Regions from separate parts of the Homo sapiens genome. Here region 2 is linked to region 1. A link means that fine-mapping ties the variant in region 1 to the expression of a gene that starts in the linked region. Tissue or cell type: thyroid. Region 1 holds a variant in brackets; the other region holds the start of a gene. All regions are shown on one strand. Distances are from middle to middle.

Region 1 (5,147 bases):
CCTCATGTGGCATAAGGGGTGAGGGAGCTCTCTGGTGGTCTCTTTTATAAGAGTACCAATCCCATTTATGAGGGCTGCACTCTCATGACCTGACCACCTTCCAAAGGCCCCAACTCCTAATACCATCACTTGGGGGTTAAGGTTTCAGCATATAAATGGTGGCAGGGACACACACATTCAGTCCACCACATTCTGCCACTGGCCTTCCAAAATTTATGTCATTCTCACATGCAAAATACATTCATTCCATCCCAACAGCCCTAAAAGTCTTAAGTTGTTTTAGCATCAGCTCCAAAGTCTTAAGTCCAAAGTGTCATTTAAATGTCGTCTAAATCTGATATGGATGAACCTCAAGGTACAGTTTATGCTGAGGCAAATTCCTCTCTAGCTCTGAACCTATAAAAGCAAATAAGTTATGTGCTTCAAAAATACAGTGGTGGGACAAGTAATGGATAGACATACTCATTCCAAAGGGAAGAAATAGGAAAGAAGAAAGGAGTAATGCATCTAAAATAAGTTGAAAACCTAACCGAACAAACAATATTAAACCTTAGGACTCAAGAATAATTCCCTTTGGCTTCGTACTCTGCTTTTCAGGTCCACTGGGGTGGGAACATCATCTCTCAGCTAGGTGGAACGTACCTCAGTGGCTGTTTGCCAGAGCCCCACCCCAGAGGCACTGAGGTCCTTTTTTGGCACTTGGGGCACACCAGACCTAAAGAGGCATCTAAGAGGAGGCATGTCCCTCTGGACATCTGCTCTAGGCCTGGTAAAGGGCGTCTACAGAAAAACCTATAGCTAACATATTTAGTGGTGAAAGGCTGAATTGTTTTTATTTAATACCAGGAACAAGACAAGGTTGCCCACTCTTACCACTTCTGTTACTCAGCACTGTCCTTAAGATTATAGCCAGTGCACTAAGGGAAGAAAAGAGTAGATAGAAAAAAGTAACTATTTGCAGAATAGTATGATCATTTATGTAGAAAATTCAGTATGATATACAAAAAAGCTACTAAAACTAATAAGTGAGTTTAGAAAGATTGCAAGATCAGTGTACAAAAATAAATTGTATTTTTGAACACTAACAATGAAAAATAAAGTTTTAAAAAAGTTTATAAGAACATCAAAAATACGAAGTTCTCAGGAATAAATCTGACAAAAAATGTGAAAGAGCTATACAATACATTGCTGAGAGAAATTAAATAATACATACACAATAGGAGAGGTACACCCTTTTTGCCTTGGTCAGAAAACTCAAGATATTCTCTCCAAGTTTGAAAAATATTATCAACATTATTAGTCATTCATTAGGGAAATGCAAAATTAAACCACAATGAGATACTGTTGGTTTGGCTAAAATTGAAAAGTCTGACCATACCAAATATTGACAAGGATATGAAAGAACAAGAGCTCTTTTACACTGCTGGCAGGAATGTAAAATGGGATATTTCCAAACTTTGGGAAACAGCTTGGCAATTTCTTAAAATGTTAAATATGTATGTACCATATTCAGTCATTTTGCTCTTAGATAAATGAAAACATGTTCTTACCAACACTACGCAGATGTTCATAGCAGCTTTATTTTTAATAGCTAAGGCTGAACATAATTCAAATGCTTATCAACAGGTAAATGGGTAAACTGCAGTATTCATATAACGAGCTATACTACTAAATAAAAAGGAATGAACTGTTGGTACATGCTACATCACAGATGAATCTCAGAATCATTCTGAGTAAAAGAAGCTAGGAAAACAGTATACAGCTTGAATAATTCTATTTATATAATTCTAGAAAACGCCAACTATCTAGTGACAGAAAGCAAATTAGTGGGTACTTGGGGATGGTAGTGCTGGTGGTAGGGAGGGGTGGAAGGAAAGGATCAAAACAGAATCATTTGGAAGTGATAGATATGCTCCTTATCTTGGTTGTGGCAGTGGTTTCAGGAGTGTTTATGTATATCAGAACTTATCCAGTGGAATACTTTATGTGCAATTTCTTATGTGTCAGCTGTACTACAATAAAAATAAATGAAAACTGTCTTTACTGTCTGATCACTGC[A/T]GCTAACAAATCTAGGACTACTTGCTAAATTTACCCAATCTTAAGACCCACCAAGGACTTTTGTTTAAAGGGATGTGATCCAGGCCTGTCATGGTGGCTCATGCCTATAATTCCAGCACTTTGGGAGGCCACGGCTGGTGGATCACTTGAAACCAGGAGTTCGAGACCAGCCTGGCCAACATGGTAAAACCCCATTTCTGCTAAAAATGCAAATAAATAATTAATTAAATAAAATAATGTGATCCAGGCTTCAGAATTATTAAGATAGGACAGAGGAACTGGACTTTTTAGCAAGCACCCCAGATAATTCTTCTCCTTCTTATAAAACACTTAACCCAGGTTCATTTAATTGCACTTTGGTAATCTGCAGCCATGTCTTTATGTGAGAAAGGGATATTAGGTTTCTAATATGAACAGAAAGGCCTAGCCATGGACCACCTGATGATGCTTCCACTGTGGTCAGATAAGATAATTTACAATTGAATGGAATTATTTTCCTTTCAGTTTATAGTTTACTGAAGTGAGCCTTGCATTGTAAGTTCCTGAAGTAATCACTGGAAATGTCTTAATTCAGTAGCTCCATCTTTAGTTAATGCTGCACTAAAAGAAAAAAGGAATTTTACTTACATACTTTTTGACAAGTCACATTCATATATGTTTTAGTGGAAAAACTGTTTTACATCTTATATATAGAAGCTGTAAAATAACATGTTCTGGGGAGAGGAATAAGATGAATAGAATAACATTATAATTATCTAAATGTTCTTTAAATGGAGATAGCCACAATCTTTCGTAAAACTCTGGAAAGAACAGCATGACCTTCTTATTGCCCCCTTTCCACCGACGTCAAACAGAAGGAAATTATAGAATAAGTCTGTCTAAATTTTAAATGGTTCAGTTATCGGAAGACCTTAGAGAGCAAGTTTTCCACAAATCATCTCTGCGCCATTTTGTCTTGATTATTTTTTTAAGGGTTGGTTTGCCAACATGTAATTAATCACTTTTGTTAGTTTTTAAGGAAATGAAACTGCATTGTTCCCTTTGGCTTGACTGTTCTTTTTTATGGCGTCTTTTAGTGTTGTAGTTGTAATATGAAAACCTTAGGTAAATGTTGGGCAGTAATGTGAACAAAACAGTGGGAAGGGAGTAATTTTTAAAAGCTTATCTACATTGCTGCTGTAATACTTACATTCAACTCCAGATCTCAAATACCACCAACTTTAATATCAAAGTCCCTTAAAGTCAGAAGGTGTTATAATGTCAGTGGATGGGGTTATTCCCTGTGTACAAAGAGTCAGGATGCACTTGTCACCAATTCCCATGGTTTCTTCTTCCAAAATCTAGTTTGAATGGATCATTTCATCTCTGGAGGAAGGGATGGGAGCACCCTTCCGACCAGTTTCATTTCTTTGGGCTCTGTTCCATCTGTGCAGGGAACTACCTTCTCTATGGAAATTGGACACGATTTTAAAAATAAAGCATTGCATTTACTAATGACTGTCAGTATTAAGATTTCATGTAGATCTTGTTGCTTCTCAGAAAAAAGTTTCATATACAGTAAGGTTTTAAAGATAGGCAAATAACTAGTTGTGAGCAGGCACCATCCTTTAACTTTTATTAATTTGAAATCATTTTTCCATTTTTAAGCAGAATAGAATGTCCCAGTAGGTGTAAGGGAAATTTCAGTAGCCTCCAAGACTCTGTGGAGATTTTGAAACTATACACGCTTCTCCATCTGTCGCCTGCCCCCTCCTCCCAGAGCATAGACTTCAAGGCTGGACTTTGCTCCATGTTAATGATCACTGTTAATGAAAAAGATAATAGGTTCCAAAAGGCTGACCACCTGTTTTTGGTATTTAGGGTAATGCTGCTGTCAAAGTGAATGAGATATATTCCTTCCTCTGTGTTCTGAAAGTTTACGTAGGGTTGGGTGTGTAATGGGTTGAATTGTGTCCTGCGTCTCCACCAAAAAAAAAAAAAAAATGGTTGAAGCCCTAACCCCCAGTACCTCAGAATGTGACCTTATTTGGAAATAGGGTCATTGCAGATGTAACGTTAAGATGAGGTCATACTCAATGAGTATGAGCTCTAATCCACCCTAAGAAAAGAGACACACACATGAGGAGAAAATGTCACGTGAAGATAGAGGCAGGGACTGCAGGGCTGCAGCTGCAAACCAAGACACACCAGGGGCTTCCGGCAACCACAGGAAGCTGGGAATAGGCAAGGAAAGATTCCCCCTACAGGTTTCCGGGGAAGCACAGCCACGCTGACACATTGATTTGGACTTCTAGCTATCAGAGCAGTGGGACAATAAATTTCTGTTGTTTAAACTACTCGTTTGTGGTATGTTATTATGGTAGCCCTAGAAAACTAATACAGATTTATATTTTCTTTCAAGTTTGATAGAATTCACCAAACAGTGTTGAGTTTTCTTTGTGGAAAGGTTTTGAATTGTGAATTCAGTATCTTTAATAGATGTAGGGCTATATAGATGTTCTGTTTACTCCTGTGTCTGTTTTGGTAATTTGTATTTTAAGAAATTTGTTTATTTCATTTAAGTTGCTGAATTTATTGGCATAAAATTGGATTGTTCATAATATTTTTTGATGTCTTAAAGGATGGTGTTCCCTCCTTTATTTCTGATATTTTAAATTTTTTGTTGTTGTTCAGTCTAACACAGTGGTTCTTAACTGGGACAGTTTTGCTCTGGCTAAGGACATTTGTCTGTGCCAAGGGACATTTGGCTATGTCCGGAGGCATTTTGGGTTGTCACAGCTTGGAGGATGTGCTACTATCATCTAGTGGGTAGAGCCCAGGGAGAATGCTAAACATCCTACAATGCACAGGACAGCTTCTCACAGCAAAGAATCCTCCAGCCCACAATATCAGTAGTGCTGAGGTTAAAAAACCTACTCTAGGCTTTATAGTGTAAACCTTCTATTTTCCAAAAATATTATATCATTTCATGTTTAATATAGTGTTTCCATTCATCCCCTTCCAGTCTTCAAACTGGTTGTGGGCATACCTTTTACTTCTCTGTATATTATAAACCCCACGATATATTGTTAGCTGTTTTTGCTTTAAAT
Region 2 (5,147 bases), 87 kb before region 1:
GAGCTGCTACCTGTTAGTATGGGCAGTGTCCAAGGAATTTACATTACAAGTTCCCAGGTGATGATACTGCTGGTCTGGGGGCCACACTTTGAGAACTTGTCTTTGTAGAATTTATGAAAACATTTGTTTATCAAAGTTCTCAAGGAAGCACATTGCTCGCTCCTGTGTCCCCAGTGCCTAGCGTGATGCCTGGCACGAGTCTTCATCGAGCTCAGGCTCTGGGCCAGGCTCAGTGCTATTGAATGAGGTTCATGAGGGTCCCAGGTTTGAACTGTTTGGAGGTAACTGGTGATGAAACTTTCACAGGAAGTGGTCATTAAAGGGAAAGGATTCCTTGTAATTACAATAACAACAGGTGTGACACCTACCCAGCGTCTGCCTAGATGTTTTACTTGTATCCCTCTCCAATTAAATCCTGTAAAAGCCCTGGGAGTCGGGCATTATCCCGGGATTTTTATGAATGAGAGAACCAAGGCTTGGAGAGTTTAATTTTCCCAAGACCACAGGATTAACAAGTACCAGAACCCAGCCAGGCCTGAGTGGGAGCTCTCTGCTGTTTACATCATAGGCCGCCTGAAGAAGTCACTGACAAGACCTAGTAATTAAAGAACCTCGAGAAGCTAGGAGTTTCATTCTTTGAGGACTGTGAGCTTTTTTAAAAGTGCAAAGAATATGCCATCCTTTAAAAAAATGCTTCCCATCTGAATTGAGATTCCTGTTCACACAACATGTTTTGAGCCTCCAGCCCTTCCTGGCAGAACCCTGGTAGCAGTGGCTGTCCCAACAGAAGTATTTTTGCTGACTTTTGTGGCTTAAAAGCCTTCTCTGATGGAGCACTTTTCCTCCCCTCTTCCTCTTCTCAGCCTCCTCCGGCAGGATGAAGGGTGTAAGATTTTGTGCTGAGGCGCTGAAGCTTGACAAATTGAGGCCAGCCTATCTCTAAATGGAATCCGTGTATCTTGCTAGGGAGGGAGAAAATCAAGTTCCAGCACTTCCCTCCTTATCAGCCTCTCCTTTTCCCTACCCTTCCCTGAGGATAAAAATAACCGCTTCCCAGGGCCTCACTGCGATGGAGCAACTGTGCCCCGAAGCCAGGCCTAGCTGTCAGAGCAGCTGCTCCCCGAGGCACGGCCCCGCGAGAGCCTTGGGGTCAGGACGGGGGCCTGTCCGCAGGGACGAGGTGTCCCAGGACAGGGCAGGGGCCCTTGGAGCCTCACCAAGAGAGGGGGCACTGGTGCAAGTTTGACCGCGATGGTGGGCGGCTCACAAAAATACATCAGGAGGCCCGGAAGTCCATGCACTGGCTGGCTCCACCGCCTTTAAGTACACGAGGTCTATCTGCAGTTCTTAACCTCTTTGAGGGCACAAGGACTCCCTAGAACAAATGATGACATACCACCTCTCTGTGTGCAATCAAGCATACACACAACACACAGAAACATGGACGTGGACACAAATACGCACGGAGACACATACACTTTTGCACACAGTTTCATATTATTGGAAGGCTGTCGAAGCCTGGTATGGACCACAGATTAACAACCCCAAAGGCAGGTTGATTATAGTGATGCAGAACGATTATAAAAAAAATAACAATTTGGCAGGGCGCGGTGGCTTACACCTGTAATCCCAGCACTTTGGGAGGCCGAGGTCAGTTGATCACGTGAGGTCAGGAGTTCGAGACCAACCCGGCCAACATGGTGAAACCCCGTCTCTACTAAAAATACAAAAAAATTAGTCGGGCATGGTTGCGGGCGCCTGTAATCCCAGCTACTCGGGAGGCTGAGGCAGGAGAATGGCTTGAACCTAGGAGGCAGAGGTTGCAGTGAGCCGAGATCGTGCCAGTGCACTCCAGCTTGGGTGACGGAGCAAGACTTCGTCTCAAAATAAATAAATAAAAATATAAAAATAAATAAAATTTTGTAACGTAAAAATAGGGTTAGTAAAGCGTGCTAAGATCTTTCTGGAAAACAAATATATGTAGTATAAATTCTAATAATAGATACGGAAACGATAAAGTTGATCACCGATGGTAAGATAAAGGATGATTTCTATTTATTTGAGTTTTCCCACTAAACAGGAAAGCATGCTGCTTTTTCGCAACCAGAACGGCCGCATCCAGGCGTTTCCGGGGACCTGGGGCGCCCACTGAGCTGCAGGCGCGGCCGGTGGCTCCAGCCTGGCCCGTCCGTCGGGAAAGGAGGGTTACAGACAATAGACAAGCAAACATTAGACGCAGTGACCGCGTGGGGCGGGGACCGGCTCTTGCGGAGAGGGTGACCCGAGCCCTTCGCCCGCCGAGGCACTTTAAAACCCCAGCGCGTTGCCCAGGCCGGCCCGCCCAGAGCGAAAGGTGCGTGCGCGCTCCCGGGGAGGCGGCGGCGCGCACGGGCGCGTCCCGCGGGCAGCCCCCAACTCCGGACGATGCAGCGAGGAGGCGGCGGCGGCGGCGCGCTCCGGAGGTCTGAAGCCACTGCTGGCTGCCACGGGCCGGCGGTGCGATGAGCTGGGCAGCCGCCCCCGGCTCGGGGCTGTGAGCGGCTCGGGGCCGGGGGTGGGCGGCGGTGCGGCGGGCGGCCGACGCTCCTCTTCGGCGGCGGCGGCGGCGGCCATGCGTGGGGCGGCGCGGCTGGGGCGGCCGGGCCGGAGTTGCCTCCCGGGGGCCCGCGGCCTGAGGGCCCCGCCGCCGCCGCCGCTGCTGCTTCTGCTTGCGCTGTTGCCGCTGCTGCCCGCGCCTGGCGCTGCCGCCGCCCCCGCCCCGCGGCCCCCGGAGCTGCAGTCGGCTTCCGCGGGGCCCAGCGTGAGTCTCTACCTGAGCGAGGACGAGGTGCGCCGGCTGATCGGTGAGTGGGGCCGCCGAGGCCGGGGCGGGCAGGTCGGGCCGGCTGGGGCAGCTTCCGGCCGCCGGCGGATCAGTCTGCGAGCCGTGGACCTCGGGCGAGTACCCTCCCCGCCCCCCGCGCCCGGATTCGCCTCGCGGCCCGGTCTCTGCCTGCCGTGCTGGCTGGGAGGTGTGGTCCCTGCCCGGTCCCCAGCTCTGGGTCAGCCTTCGTGCCGCCCTCGCTGCCCCGCCGCGATAGACCCAGATTCACCCCATCCCATCCTCCTCACTGCCTCCTTAGCCCTTCTCCCTAGAAGAGTCAGTCACCCTTACAACTTTTTTTCCTTGCTGCACGAAGTTTTTTTGACGCTTTCTATGTGTGTCACTCTAGGGCCCTCGATTTTGAATATCTCGAAATTCACGTTTTAGACTGAACTTGCAAACCCTTTGCTGTGGTTTTGATGCTCCAGTAGAGGCCACGCTCTGTGCTTACCCTTTTACAAAAAAAAAAAAAAAAAAAAAAAAAACGAGAGAGAAAGAAGGGGAGGTTATAAGGGCACCAAATGTTCGTGGCAGCCTCCAACTCTTGGGACGTAGATTTGGAGCATATGCTTAGATTCTAAGCATATTTTTAGTGAATGAATCGCCAGGTAGCAGACCTTTTTAGTTTCAATACCTTTTTGGTTTTTGCATTGGGTGTGTTGGGAGTTTGGACTGACTCTGTACTTCTGGGCCACTCTCCTACTTTTGAGTATCTTGAAGGGAAACAAGAACTTAGTCTTGGGTCGGTTTGTGGTTCCATTTACTTGCTTAGCTTTGTTGTTTGGGGAATTAATTTGAAAAATTGCTGGGGTCTTATGTTAGGACTTTGTGGATTCTGGAAATGACCCCTTAGAGGAAGATCTGACAGGAACGACCCCCCAAAAAGGAAGTCCTTGGTACCTAGACGTTTGCATTCTTTTGTTATTATGGCAGTATCTTTATTTCATCTGAAGGTGGTGCTTCTGAGTGTTTGAGGGGAAAAATTATTCTCTATTGCATCCATTATTTGTCAGTATTCTATTTTTTTTTAAGTAATAAGACTTTGTTGAGGTGTGTTGAGATTGACTCAGTGTAGAAATGGAATTACTGAAAGCAGACTCTTTAGACATTACATGTACGGATTTGCAGTTTTTAGCCAAAGAAGAATGCTCTTTTTATGAAGTCGTGCTCATTCTTAATCCTTCTTAGTCTAGCTGAGTTAGCTGAATGTAGTTTAGCTGAATTAAAACTCTACTTGGGGTAGTACTTGGAACACAAGACTAAGATTTAGGAAAAATAATACAAGACGACTCATATCACATTAATTTTAGAAATATTAACGTATTATGCATGGTTTTGTAAAGGCTTTTTGGTTAAAAGCACTTATATAGCTTGTGACTTTGTTTACATGGGTAAACAAAGTCAGAGGTGTAGGTAGGAGACAGAAGACAACCAGGGACTGACATTGAATTCCTGCCATATACCTGCCCCTACATGCTTTATACACATAATTTCTTCTAATTTTCTCGGGGCCCAGTGAGGTAGGTGGCATTATGCCTATTGTAGAGATGAGGAAAGTGGGGTTTTAAAGTAACTTGCTCAAGGTCACACAGTTAATTTTTTTTTAGACGGAGTCTCGCTCTTGTCACCCAGGCTGGAGTGCAGTGGCGTGATCTCGGCTCACTGCAATCTCTGCTTCCTGGGTTCAGGTGATTCACCTGCCTCAGCCTCCCAAGTAGCGACCACTTCTGGCTATTTTTTGTATTTTTAGTAGAGACAGGGTTTCACCATGTTGGTCAGGCTGGTCTTGAACTCCTGAGCTCGTGATCTGCCCGCCTCGGCCTCCCAAAGTGCTGGGATTACAGGTGTGAGCCACCGCACCTGGCCTAGTTCATATTTTTGAAAAAAATGAAACAGTGTTGACATAGGCTGCAAAGTTTTATCGAATGAAATGAAGATTTTGTCTGTAGAAGTTTGATTATGTCATGGTGGAAAATAAATCATTGCTAATTAGCACTTGAGTTATATATTTGTTACCTTATTCAAAGGTTGGCCTGGAACTAATTTTCTTAGCAGTATTTGCAGCAGAGGAAGCTCCTGTTTGATGAGCATCCAATTTATGCCCAGAAATGCTGTTGCTGGGAGGGTAGGAAGCATTGTTTCAATTAACTCCCTTGTCTATCCCCGGGGGCGAGAGAGACTTCTAGTAGTATTTTCTCTAGTGCAAATAGGGTTGACCTGTTACAGAGGATCTCTAGTCACTCCATCCTGCCAGATTCAGGTTCGTTGTTTCCATCCCTTCCCA

Evidence for each region. PIP is the estimated chance that this variant, and not a neighbour inherited with it, causes the effect.
Region 2: RYK starts here. The variant in region 1 is fine-mapped to the expression of RYK in thyroid (GTEx, PIP above 0.99).

Annotation. Positions count from the first base shown.
Region 1 is chr3:134,161,129-134,166,275 of GRCh38, reverse strand. All of the region lies in intron 13 of RYK (receptor like tyrosine kinase), which reads left to right. Among named protein-coding and RNA genes, the nearest start is that of RYK, 87 kb to the left of the region's middle. The variant A/T (reference allele first, on the strand shown) is at 2,059.
Region 2 is chr3:134,248,119-134,253,265 of GRCh38, reverse strand. It overlaps RYK (receptor like tyrosine kinase), which reads left to right and starts at 2,407. Exons shown (of 15, transcript NM_002958.4): 1 at 2,407-2,843. The coding sequence starts at 2,612. RefSeq lists a silencer at 2,233-3,052 and an enhancer at 2,388-3,166.